Linked DNA regions of Homo sapiens. The protein of the gene in region 1 purifies or fractionates together with the protein of each later gene. This does not show direct contact. Each region holds a gene or a part of one and is shown in the gene's direction. Other genes may lie near its edges.

Evidence for each region. The genes of interacting proteins can lie anywhere in the genome.
Region 2: the proteins of TRPC3 (region 1) and USP33 purify together in Homo sapiens (affinity purification with mass spectrometry; one large-scale study listed by BioGRID and IntAct). This does not show direct contact.
Region 3: the proteins of TRPC3 (region 1) and MX1 purify together in Homo sapiens (co-immunoprecipitation; one study listed by IntAct). This does not show direct contact.

Annotation. Positions count from the first base shown.
Region 1 is NC_000004.12:121,873,060-121,877,812, reverse strand, and holds the end of TRPC3 (short transient receptor potential channel 3), read left to right. Parts: 3' UTR 1-3,332; downstream 3,333-4,753. UniProt on the Homo sapiens protein: Forms a receptor-activated non-selective calcium permeant cation channel.
Region 2 is NC_000001.11:77,696,897-77,700,955, reverse strand, and holds part of USP33 (ubiquitin carboxyl-terminal hydrolase 33), read left to right. Parts: intron 1-3,024; coding exon 3,025-3,093; intron 3,094-3,481; coding exon 3,482-3,639; 3' UTR 3,640-4,059. UniProt on the Homo sapiens protein: Deubiquitinating enzyme involved in various processes such as centrosome duplication, cellular migration and beta-2 adrenergic receptor/ADRB2 recycling.
Region 3 is NC_000021.9:41,450,136-41,455,011, forward strand, and holds part of MX1 (interferon-induced GTP-binding protein Mx1), read left to right. Parts: intron 1-1,031; coding exon 1,032-1,108; intron 1,109-2,485; coding exon 2,486-2,734; intron 2,735-4,876.

The DNA of each region.
Region 1 (4,753 bases):
GATAAAAAGCTGACTTTTTTTTTTTTTTTTTTTTGTCCATGCCCCTCACAACTGTAGAGCTCTTAACAGGCATTTTTTCTTTATTTACTATGTACAAACTGGTATAGTTTTAATATTTCATCTTTTTCCTTATTCATCATTTCAAGGTGTTGTTTCAGAAGAAGGTGTGATGACAAGGTGTAGTGAGTGTGGTTGATGTTTTTGATGCCCTGCCCAGATGCCCTCTACTGGACCAGTGCACCTGTCTCCCAGATTCTCCTGTGCAGTTCCTAGCCAATCACTTCCCCTGGAGAATTGCCCTCAGCTAAAAAGAAGAAGCCTTGCTCGGGATGTGATGCCTCCGCCTCCCCATGGCCAGTGACTGATGGGTGGGGGCACAAAGGGCTGGCCCCTTGTCTCAAGATGGGGCCAACTATTCAGTGCAGTTCATGCTCCAGAGCTCCTGAAAGGATTAGGGTGATGCCAGACTCAAGCTGAGATGAAATCCTGGTTTAGATTCTTCCTCTGCCTTTTCCAGTTTCCTTCCTTCCCTTTCTCCAGAGAGCATCCCCTTAATGAGTCACCACATCCAAATCTTATTAGGTTTTGCTTTTAGGGAACTCACACTAAGCCATAAGGTATTAATGTGGTAGCATACGGTTGAGATGAGGATTAGTCGAGGGGATTGCTGTCAGAATTAGTCCTTCACTTGAGGATAAAGATAGCTCTGGGTCAGCAAGTCTTTTCCCTAGTCACTTTTAACAGGTACCTTTGGGAAAACAAACCTCAAAGAAGTTGTTGGGGCAACTCAGAGAAGGGAGCATTTAAACAGGACCAAAAACAACTTTATAGAAAAAAACATTAATTAAAGGATTGTCAAAGCCCCAGGACTCTTTTTTCCTTAGGACATCTCTCATTTTTTACCTCTTTGCTATTCTTATTTTTTTCTCATTTACAGATAAAGAAAAGAAAGCAACACTCAAAGTGCTTCTTAGACTTATTGTTCGAAAAGTTGGGTACTTTGTAAGTGCCTGCTGTATTGAATTTACAGAGCACCCATGACTTTATGGAAGTCACAATCTGTTGAAAAGTTTGGGTTCTTAGACTTGAAATAATGAGAAAACTTTGAAAAATGGTACAGAGTATCTTTACAGAGTTTATGCACAATAAAAACAAAAATGATATGTTGTGATTATTAAAAGCAAATTTGGTACAATTTAGGATAACTATCTTACCCAATATGTCAATATATTTATATTTCAAATGTGCAAGCCAAGTGAAAGCAGCTTTTGTAAATGGGAAGATAAATTGTCTGATGGACAATGTCTAAAGAGAACTGAAGCCACACTAATGACTGTGGTATGGGACAAACCATTTAACTTCTCTGGTCTTCATAAATGGTTCAGGCAAACAGGGTTATGCTACATCAGGGGTTCCTAGTCCCTGGAGCTCATAGAGGTGTTTTAGGAGGTTAATGTCATCATCCAAGGTGGTAATCTTTCTTTCCATGTCTTTTTAAATTTTTTAAATAAAGTTTTTAAAATACATTTTTAGAGGCGGGTCTCACTATGTTGTCCAGGCTAGTCTTTAACTTTTGGCCTCAAGCGATCCTCCTGCCTCAGCCTCCCAAAATCAGGCTGGGCACAGTGGTGCACACCTGTAATCGCAGCACTTTGGGACGTTGAAGCAGGTCGATGGCTTCAGTTCAGGAGTTCGAGACCAGCAGGGCAACATGGTGAAACTGTCTCTACAAAAAATACAAAAAAAATTAGCCGGGCATGGTGGCATGTGTCTGTGGTTCCAGTTACTCAGGAGGCTGGGGTGAGAGGATAACTTGAGCCCAGGAAGTTGAGGCTGCAGTGAGCTGGTTCACGCCACTGCACTCCAGCCTGGGTGACAAAGTGAACCACCCCCCACAAAAAAAAAAAAAAAAAAAAAAAAAAATCTAAAATGGGTATTTATAACTTTGTTCAGTTTAAAAAAGAGTTTGAGAATTTCTAAATTTATACCATGTGTTAGGGGAAACTAATGTTTTTACTCATGACTCAGTCACTCAGCTGACCACCACTAGCGTGTTGATGGTTTTAACTTTAATGCAGTTTAAATTGCTTTTATTTTTAGCCATAAGTTGTTTAACTTATACTCATAATGGTTGCTTTAGCACCATAACATAAGGTTATAAATTACTGAGGTGCATGGTAATTCTGCAAATTTGTCTCTAAAGTGGTCTTTGTCACATCTGAGAGGCAGCCATCTTCTGTTGAGTTTTATAAAGACCACCAAGATGTCTCTGATACCCTAAAACATCTTTAAAAAGAGGACACACAGTGGTAATTTAACTTGACATTTTCTTTATTGTGAATAAAAATTCCTTACCCTGCTAATTAATTATTTGAGGAATACTTAAAATTAGTAGGTTGAAATCTTTACTAATCATTTAGAAACAAAACATAGTATGTACTTTAAAAATAATAAATTGCATTTTTAGATGCAAAATCAAAGAATTCCAAATATCATATTATGCAAACTTTTTGTATTGTTTTGATGCTATATCATAGCCTCATTTCACTGTTTTAAAATAAATTTGAGCTTCAAAATAAACTTTTACTTTCCTTCTACACAATTAATTGAACAGTGGACATCACTTGCTAAATGGAAAGTAAGCACTGCCAGCATTGTCTGTCTTTGGTGTTTTTTTTTTTACCTATTTATTAGAACCATAGTATTTCTTCATTATTAATTTGTATGAACTATTTTTTAAGATATTAACTCTTTTCTCCTATATTTTTGTTTTCATTTAAACATTGTTGTGACATATTGAAATGTTTATCTTTACTTTTCATTTTTTTTAAGTTAGTTTTTTGTTTGTTTTTTAGAGATGGGGCCTTGCTATTTTGCCCAGGCTGGATTGTTGGGCTCAAGCAATCTTGAGCCTCAGCCTTCAAATAGCTGAGACTACAGGCATGTAACACCATATCTGCTTTTTTCCTTTGTGGTTTCTTCTATTCCTTTTGAGATCAGTTTCCTTCTGTTATGGGCTGAATTGTGTCCCCTCAAAACTCATGTTAAAGTCCTCGCCTTCAGTATCTCAGACTATAACTATAGTTGGAGATAGGGTCTTTAAAGAGGTAATTAATTTAAAATGAGATAATATGACTGGTGTGCTTATAAAAAGACAAGATGAGACACAGACAGACATAGAGGGAGGACCACGTGAAGACACGGAGAAGATGACGATCTATAAGCCAAGAAGAGAGGCCTCTGAAGATCGGTTTTATTCCCTGCTGACACCTTGATCTATGACTTCTAGACTCCAAGACTGTGAGAAAATAAATTTCTGTTGTTGAAAAGCCTCCCAGTGTGTACTACTTTGCTATGGCAGCCCTAGCAAACTAATACTATATCCTCCAACCTCCAAAATTCTGTAAAATGCTATACAATTCTATTTTCTTCTGTCTTTTCTATGGCTTTATTTTTCAGTTGACTTCTAAAATTTATTTGTATTTTTTTCTTGAATCTAAATTGATATATATTTCCCCCAAATTGCTGAACAGCTAACCCATCTACATGTATTGTCTATTTTAATGTGGGATTATTTTAGCCTCAGAGATATAATTGTCTGGAACACAGGGAAAACTTTTTCAGATATTGCTGCAGTAAATAACTTCTCTTCTTAAGAAGCACCTCTTCTCAGGGATTTAATTCTTTTTGTTTCACAATTATTTGTGAACTCTTTCCTGGAAAACCACAGTGGCTCATGTCTGTAATCCCAGAACTTTGGGAGGCTGAGGTGGGCGGACCACTCGAGCCCAGGAGTTCAATACCAGCCTGGGCAACATGGCAAAACTCCATCTCTACAAAAAAAAAAAAAAAGAAAGAAAGAAAAAGAAAAACCACAAGAATCAGGAAAGTAGCTGTATCTGAACTTATCTGTATTTCCCCAGGCAGAGCTCTATGCACATTAAGGAAGGACCGATGAAAGTGAGTCAAAGAATGTCAGCTCTTAAATCCTGGGTCACTATGGGTCAGTAGTAGTCTGTGGGGCCCCGAGGGGCAGGGGTGGTTCCTGAGGCCTTTTCACAGCTGTCTGCAATTTTGAAACTATTTTCATAACACTAAGTTGTGATTTGCCATTTCACTCTGCTGACATTTGCACTGATGGTACCGAAACAATGGTGGTTAATACTGCTAGTGCTTAAGCATAAATCAAAATAGTGGCTCCAAACTGTACTAGTAGACACCATATTCTATATAACATGCACTGATAGGAAACAAAAACCATTTCATATAAAAATGTTCTTAACGAAGCAGCAACATTGTTAATATTATCTTTTTTTCTTTTTTCTTTCTTCTGATTCAGCCCTCATTTATTACATCTTAACTCTTGAATATGTCTTTTTAAATGTTCTATGTGAGGACATAAGAAGTATGTATAAAATCCTTCTACTGAATACTGAAATACATTAGTTGTCTCAAGGAAAAGCACTTGTGGGATTGAGCTGCTAGCTGAACTTCCTGCTTTTTTCATGGGACACTTTTTATTTGAAGGAATTACTCACAAATTATGATTATTCAGACTTAGATATCTGGCATTTACTTTCTTGTGAATTCAAGAAGGGAACCTATCAGTTCAAGGAAAACAATCGACATTTCTTGCCAATGTGTAAATTTCAAACTTTCAAGCACAAATTTGAATTTTGGAAAATATGTATTCACCATCTAAGTTTGACAGATCTCCCATACTCGGGACTTTACTGATGAGATCCATGGTGAT
Region 2 (4,059 bases), on another chromosome or scaffold:
AGGCTGACGTGGGTGGATCACCTGACGTCAGGAGTTCAAGACCAGCCTGAAACATAGTGAAACCCTGTCTCTACTAAAAATACAAAAATTAGCTGGGTGTGGTGGCAGTCACCTGTAATCCCAGCTACTCAGGAGGCTGAGGCAGGAGAATTGCTTGAATCCACGAGGCGGAGGCTGCAGTGAACTGAGATCATGCCACTGTACTCCAGCCTGGGTGACAGAGCAAGACTTTGTCTTTAAAAAAAAAAAAAAAAAAAAGATTCTGATATGTGAAAAAGGCTGCAACAATATGCCTAGTTAAAGCTTTTTGTATTTATGTATTTACTTTTTAAAATTTTAAATTAATAGAGACAAGGTCTTAACCCTGTTGCCCAGGTTTAAGTACAGCAGCATGATTATGGCTCACTGCAGCCCTGAACTCTCAGCCCATGCGATCCTCCTACCTCCATCTCCTGAGTAGTTGGGACTACAGGCATGTACTACCACACTTGGCTAATTTAAAAATTATTTTTTACAATTATTTGTAGAGACATGGTCTCACAGTGTTGCCCAGGAACTCCTGGGCTCAAGCAGTGCACCAACCTTGGCCTCCCAAAGTGCTGAATTACTGAGTTCTCTCTGTATTGTCCAGGCTGGCCTCAAACTCCTGGGCTCCAGCGATCCTCTTGCTTCAGCCTCCTGAGTAGCTGGGACTATAGGTGCACACCACCATATCTGGCTTTTCTACACCTTTAAAAAAATTTATTTTTATTTTGTAAGTTCCAGCATACATGTGCAGGATGTGCAGGTTTGTTACATAGGTAAACATGTGCCATGGCGATTTGCTCCACCTATCAACCCATTACCTAGGTATCAAGCCCAGCATGCATTAGCTGTTTTTCCTGTTGTTCTCCCACCCCTCATCCCTCAACCCCCACCAACAGGCCCTAGTGTGTGTTCTCCTCCCTGTGTCCTTGTGTTCTTGTTGTTCAGCCCCCACTTATAAGTGAGAACATGCAGTGTTTGGTTTTCTGTTCTTGCATTAGTTTGCTGAGGATAATGGCTTCCAGCTCCATCCATGTCCCTGCATAGGACATGATCTCTTTCCTTTTTATGGCTGCGTAGTATTCCATAGTGTATATTTACCACATTTTCTTTATCCAGTCTATCATAGATGGGCATTTGGGTTGATTCCTTATCTTTGCTATTGTGAATAGTGCTGCCATGAACATATGTGTGCATGTATCTTTATAATAGAATGAATTGTGTTCTTTTGGATATATACCCAGTAATGGGATTGCTGGGTCAAATGGTATTTCTGGTTCTAGGTCTTTGAGGAATTGCCACACTGTCTTCCACAATGGTTGAACTAATTTACATTCCCACCAACAGTGTAAAAGTGTTCCCATTTCTCCACAGCCTCGCCAGCATCTCTTGTTTCTTGACTCTCTCTTTTTTTTGAAAAAGAGGCTCACTTTGTCACTCAGGCTGGAGTGGAGTGGCGTGATCTCAGCTCATTGCAACCTCCTCCTGGGTTCAGACGATTGTCCTGCCTCAGCGTCCTGAGTAGCTGGGATTACAGGTGCCGCTGTCATGCCTGGCTAATTTTTCTATTTTTAGTAGAGATGGGGTTTCACCATGTTAGCCAGGTTGGTCTCAAACTCCTGATCTCAAGTGAGCCACCTGCCTCGGCCTCCCAAAGTGGTGGGATTACAGGCATAAGCCACTGGGCCCAGCCTGTTTCTTGACTTTTTAATAACTGGCATTCTGACTGATGTGACATGGTATCTCATTGTGGTTTTGATTTGTGTTTCTCTAATGATCAGTGATGTTGATCTTTTTTTCATGTTTTTTTGGCCACATAAATGTCTTCTTTTGAGAAGTGTTCATGTTCTTTGTCCACTTTCTAATTGGGTTTTTTTAATTGTAAATTTGTTTAAGTTGCTTTTACAACTTTTGATGATGACCATGCGGTTCACTTTTGCCTTAAATTTTAAAAAGAATGTATTTAAACGGTTTCTTTTATAATGCTTTTATTGTTCTTAATGTTACTTTGATAATCTGAAGCAAATTAATTGTATAATTTCTTTCAAATTACAAAGGAATTGCTATTTTATAGCATTAGTGGTACATTTTGACTTGTAATCCCCAAATGGAGAGTTAAAAAATAATTTCTGGGCCGGGCGTGGTGGCTCATGCCTGTCATCCCAGCACTTTGGGAGGCCGAGGGGGGTGGATCACGAGGTCAGGAGATCAAGACCATCCTGGCTAACACGGTGAAACCCCATCTCTACTAAAAATACAAAAAATTAGCTGGGCGTGGTGGTGGGTGCCTGTAGTCCCAGCTACTCGGGAGGCTGAGGCAGGAGAATGGCATGAACCTGGGAGGCGGAGCTTGCAGTGAGCCGAGATGATGCCACTGCACTCCAGCCCTTGGCAACAGAGCGAGACTCCGTCTCAAAAAAAAAAAAAAAAACAAAACATTTCTGTTAAACTGTGATGGTTGTGAACGAGCCTCTCTTACCTTCTTTCCTGGTTCTGTTTTGGGGGAACTAAGAACTAAAAACGAAGAAGCTCAGGAGAAGACATTAAGAATTAACCATAGGCCAGGTGTAGTGGCTCACGCCTGTAATCCCAGCACTTTGGGAGGCTGAGGTGGGTAGATCGTGAGGTCAGGAGTTCGAGACCAGCCTGACCAACATGGTGAAACTCCCATCTCTACTAAAAAAAAAAAAAAAAGCAAAAATTAGCCGGGCGTGGTGGTGTGTGCCTGTATTCCCAGCTACTCAGGAGGCTGAGGCAGGAGAATCACTTGAACCCAAGGCGGAGGTTGCAGTGAGCTGTGATGGTGCCACTGCACTCCAGCCTGGGCAACAGAGCGAGACTCCATCTCAAAAAAAAAAAAAAAGAATTAACTATAATAATTTGCCTGAGAAATAACCAGTCTGATAATGTAGTTATAGGTCACAATTTTGTCAAGCACAAAATTATGCAATTTTTTGTTACATTTCTTTGAAAAATACATTTTGATATTTTTTCCTTTAGATCCTCCAGGTCCTATTGACAATACTAAGATTGCAGTCACTAAATGTGGTAATGTGATGCTTAGGCAAGGTAAGTTTGACTCGTATTTAAGCTTTTACTTGTGAGTGATTTGTCACTGTTAGAAATATGTTATCATTAGTCATCTATAGTACTTTTTTATTCAACTGAAGAATGTAATCCATACATTAACTAGGGCAAGTAATGAAAAGCAGCCACTTTTTTTTTATCTGAGGAAAGGTCTTAAGGCTGTTGTTAAGAGCAAAGCAAAAGCATCTCTGACTTTTTAAGACAAGCCATATGTTTCAGCTTATAACAATATGGGCTGGTAGTCTGCAGATTCATGTTCCAGAAGTTCTCAATTATCCCGAGAAGATTCATGCTGGGGGGTACATTATGAACGCTTTTGCAATATGAATATATAGGTTTGTAAACATTATTTCTTCTACGTAATTTTAAGGAGCAGATTCTGGCCAGATTTCTGAAGAAACATGGAATTTTCTGCAGTCTATTTATGGTGGAGGGCCTGAAGTTATCCTGCGACCTCCGGTTGTTCATGTTGATCCAGATATACTTCAAGCAGAAGAAAAAATTGAAGTAGAAACTCGGTCTTTGTAATTTTTAGGATGTAGAGAGTTCTAATGAGGAATCATTTTCATGTGCCCTGACATGTACACATGCGAAAACATTCCTAAAAGCGTGTTTATTTGCTTTATTTTTTTTCATCATTTATCCCATTTATTTCTTCTTAGTGGGCATTATGGAAGAATATATTAAAATGTGTAATATACCACAGGTTGGTATATTTAGTTTTAAATACTTACCATAAAGTCTTTCAGTGTAATTTTTTTTTGAGACAGAGTCTTGCTTTGTCACCCAGGCTGGAGTGCTGTGGTGTTACCTCAGCTCACTGCAGCCTCCACCTCCTGGGTTCAAGCGATTCTCCTGCCTCAGCCTCTCGAGTAGCTGGGATTACAGGCACCTGCCACCATGCCCGGCTAATTTTTGTATTTTAGTAGAGATGGGGTTTCACCATGT
Region 3 (4,876 bases), on another chromosome or scaffold:
CACTCAAAATCGGCTGTTTATTTGAAATCTCCGAGGAGTAAAGCCAATGGTTCCATAACTGCACGTGTAGATGTGTTTGGAACCTTTTGGAGTGCTGTAGGAATCTAGGTGTGTCACGGATAGGTAGGAAACTAGATCCTACTGTGGATCCACTCCCTTCTTGAAATGCTTTGCTTTCTTGGTTTTCCAGGTATTAAATCTCTATTCTTCATCCTCTCCTTGACTGACAGTATCCTTACTCACACTTCAGCTGCCTCATCTTAGCAGTAATTAATAATCACTCATGGATCCATGAACTAAGGAGCTGGAGATAGCCTCAGAACAGCTCATTCAGAGGTGTATTTCCAGTAAAATTGACCTTTTAGCCCTGATAATCATATACCAAAACCTGCAATCATGTTGTTTTGGTCCATTGTAGACTCTTAACTCATTCCAGAGGAAAGTTTATAATACTTAGAGCCTTATAGTCATAAAAATCAACATAGATATACCTATTTCTTTTTCAGAAATGTATGACATGGAGATCAATAAGAGGTTTTCAATCATAAAGATACTATACCTTGTATTACAATAAAATTCTGTGAGGAAGTAGAATAGAAATGAGTTTCAAAAATAAAAGATAAATAATATAAATTTTTTAATCTAAGAGCTTGTTCTTGTATTTTTTTCAAATGGATAATGTAGACACTCAAATTCCATTGATATATTTAAGAGTGATTTGACTTATATTAAGAGTTGTATTATAAAATATTAATATTTATAATTTAAAAGAAATTACATTCTTTGCAGCTATTTAGGATAAAAAGTTTAAATATCAAATAAATGTATGCCAGGGGTCATTTGCTTTTAAGATTCTTCCAGCAAATTATTAAGCAAAAAGAGCATGCCTTGCTTTTTCATGGTAAAGAGAAGAAGGGAGCGGGGAGAGGGGAAACTTTACTTCATACCATTTGATCCTCATATTTTTTTGCATCTTAAGAAGAGAACAAATGATCCTACCAATATTGAACTATTTTTCTCTCTTTGATTAGATATGGTCCGGCTTGCTTTCACAGATGTTTCGATAAAAAATTTTGAAGAGTTTTTTAACCTCCACAGAACCGCCAAGGTAAAACCAACCATGTGTTGTTTAAAAAAAAAAAAGAAAAGAAATTAAGCTTGACACTAGAAAATAGATTTCTTGGATGAGGATTATTTCAACTTTATTGTATACTTTTAGAACAGCAAATAACATCACTCACTAGTGCTTCTTCTGATGTTACCGGTGATGTCTGGTTAAAAGCAATAAAGGAGGGAGTGCTTAAACGCACAGAACAAGAGATCCACAGTTAGCGGAGAAGATTATCACATCTAAGGGCAATGGCTCCAAATCCAGAAACTCACTGAGGAAACTACATATAAAAATAGAATATTTCTGGCCCGAGTGGGCATGATGAGCCTGTAATCCCAGCACTTTGGGAGGCTGAGGCCGGTAGATGACTTAAAGCCAGGAGTTTGAGACCAGCCTGGCCCACATGGCAAAACCCCATCTCTACTAAAAATACAAAAAAGTAGCTGGACGTGGTGGTGCATGCCTGTAATCCCAGCTACTTGGGAGGCTGACACTTTAGAATTGATTGAGCCCAGGAGGTGGAAGTTGCAGTGAGCCAACATTGCATCACTGCACTCTAGCCTAGGCGATGGAGCGAGACCCCGTCTCAAAAAAAAAAAAAAAAACAAACAAAAAAACTTTCCATCCAGAGTGAGGAAAGAGCCTACAGGAAATGAGCCTGGGGGACAGACTGGGCCAAGAGACCAGACTTAGCCACTCTTAGAAATAGGTGTCCCCGGCACAGATGAGGAGCCTGGCCCCATGATTCACCAGCTGGAGGCCTTGGGATGTGCCACTTCCAGCCTGTGCCCCTGACTCCTCATTCATAAAAGAAGACTGATAAGGCCTTCCTCAGAAGGTTGAGATGGACGTGGAGTAAGATGTTTAGGATGCACCTGCCACTGTGCACTGTGCCTCTCCTCAAGGCCTGGAGGGTCCAGGGGTGAAGTTTCTCCTCCTCAGGTTTTGGCAACCAGTTTCTCTAAACCCCGGGAACATAAAACATAATTTTCTGACTTAAACATGGCTTTCCTGCTCATCCCTGTGGATTATCTGATGGATATGACAATCCTCGCCATCAGATATAGAAGCCCCTAAAAGAGAAAGGAAAGAAGCTGAGTTACGGGGCCTGAAAGCAAGCCTGTGCAGGTCCCCAGGCCCCGGGATGGGGGTCCGGCCCATCTGTGGCTCAAGCCTCCTGGGAAGCTCTGACCCTCAGCCAGGGCTAGAAACCTGCCTTAGATACACCAGGGCGCGGCCCAGAGGGCTGTTCCAGGAAACGTGCTGTTTCACTCACGTTGGGTAACCTGGTATTTACGGACTTCTTACCTACTTTCCTGTGACTCAGGAATTTGTGTCTTGAGGGAAACTGTATTTATTTATTTTTTACTGTAGTCCAAAATTGAAGACATTAGAGCAGAACAAGAGAGAGAAGGTGAGAAGCTGATCCGCCTCCACTTCCAGATGGAACAGATTGTCTACTGCCAGGACCAGGTATACAGGGGTGCATTGCAGAAGGTCAGAGAGAAGGAGCTGGAAGAAGAAAAGAAGAAGAAATCCTGGGATTTTGGGGCTTTCCAGTCCAGCTCGGCAACAGACTCTTCCATGGAGGAGATCTTTCAGCACCTGATGGCCTATCACCAGGTACGTCTTCGCGTGGTTCAGGATGCCAGCTTCCATTCTTTCCTTTTCTTCTGAACGCCTCTCTCTTTAGTCTTGCTCTCTCTGTAGGTGACGTTGGTCAGCTCTGTCGTTTACCTCCTTGTTAGCCTCCTGTATTAGTCCATTTTCATGCTGCTGATAAAGACATACCTGAGACTGGGCAATTTACAAAAGAAAGAGGTTTAACGGACTTACAGTTCCACATGGCTGGGGAGGCCTTCTACCATCACGGCAGAAGGCAATGGGCACTTCTTACCTGGCGGCGGTGGCAAGAGAGAGAATGAGAGCCAAGTGAAAGGGGTTTCCCCTTATCAAACCATCAGATCTCATGAGAGTTACTCACTACCATGAGAACAGTATTGGAGAAACTGCCCCCATGATTCAGTTATCTCCCCCTGAGTCCCTCCCACAACAGGTGGGAATTATGGGAGTACAATTCAAGATGAGATTTGGGTGGGGACACAGAGCCAAACCATATCGCCTTCGTAGAAGCAGCTCAACCTCAGACAGAGAGATGGTGGCTTAGAGCCAGTGACATCTGGTTTTGATGGCTGTCTAGCTCTGGCCAAGTTACTTAACCTCTCTGAGCCTCAGCTTTCTTTGTAAAATGGTGTCTCCTCATAGATTCTAGTGCATATTCCAGGAGACGAGTGTGGATGATGATAATGGATTGCTAATGGAAAAACCAAACTCTGTTAAAATATTTGAAAGAGGTTTATTCTGAGCCAAATATGAGGGACCATGGCTCTGGGAACAGTCTCAGGAGGTCCTGAGGAAGTGTGCCTGAGGCTGTCAGGATGCAGTTTGATTTTATACATTTCAGAGAGGCAGGAATTGTAGGTAAAATCATAAATCAATACATGGGAGGTGTACTTGCCCTCCCTAAAGAGGCAGGACACCTTGAAGGAGGGGGAGCTTACCGGTCATAGGTGGGTTCAGAGATTTTCTGGTTGACGATTGCTTGAAAGAGTTAAACTTTGTCTACAAACTTGACATCAATAGAAAGAAATGCCTGAGTTAAGGCAGTGTTAGAGGCCAAAGGTATGTAGATGAAGACTCTGGGTAGCAGCCTTCAGAGAGAATAAATGGTAAATGTTTCTTTTCAGGCCTTAGAGGCAGCAGGCTCTCAGTTAATCTCTCCTAGATTCAGGGAAGGCCTAGAAGGGGAGAGGTCTGACTGCATTAATGGAGATTCTCTACAGGTGCAAATTCCCCCCCCACAAAACATGGCAGGGCCATTTCAATCTGTTGGTCCTGTTACAGCCGTTTCAAAATATGTCCACAAAATATATTTTTAGGTAAAATATTTGTATTTCCTTTAGGGTCTGCAATCTGTCTTGTGATGCTATACCAGAGTCGGGTTGGAAAGTAAGCCATTTTATACTGAGTTCATGGAAACTCATCCAAGGAGATTTCATGGTTTGTGGGGTGTGTGTGACTTAACCCCTGCCTCACATGACTTTATAATATGGTATCTTACTACTCCAGAGTCTTTTTGGCCAACCTTATGATCTCAATTTCAACCTAAACTCCAAAAGGGCCTGGCTTCTCTTCCTGTTACGGCCAGGAATTCAGATTTTCAGGTTTCTCTGGGGTCCACTTGGCCAAGAGGGGGTCTGTTGAGTTGGCTGGAAGGCATAGGATTTTATTTCTGGTTTACAACAATTTCCTTAGTGCAGCATTGGAATGCAATGGTAGCAGACTAAATGGAAGCTATCGCGTAGACACATGCTTTGGTTGATACTGCACGATTCAGTTAACCTGAAGTACAATCTAATTCATCCTAGGGAAGGAGGCAGTGAACACAGACACAACTCAGGTAGAGCCCTTGGGATGTGTAAACACCTGAGGAGGTAAAGCAAATTGTAATCTCTCGGTTTATCAGATGTCCCCATTGCCTTACTATTTGGATGCTTTAAAGCAGGGCCTCTCAAACTCCACCCAGCACAGAGGCCTCCTGGGATCTTGTGGAAATGCAGATGCTGATTGCAGGTCAGGATGAAGCTGAGATTCTGCCTTTCTTTTTTTTTTTTTTTTGAAACCGAGTCTCACTCCATTACCCAGGCTGGAGTGCAGTGGCACAATCTCAGCTCACTGCAACCTCTACATCCTGGGTTCAAGCAA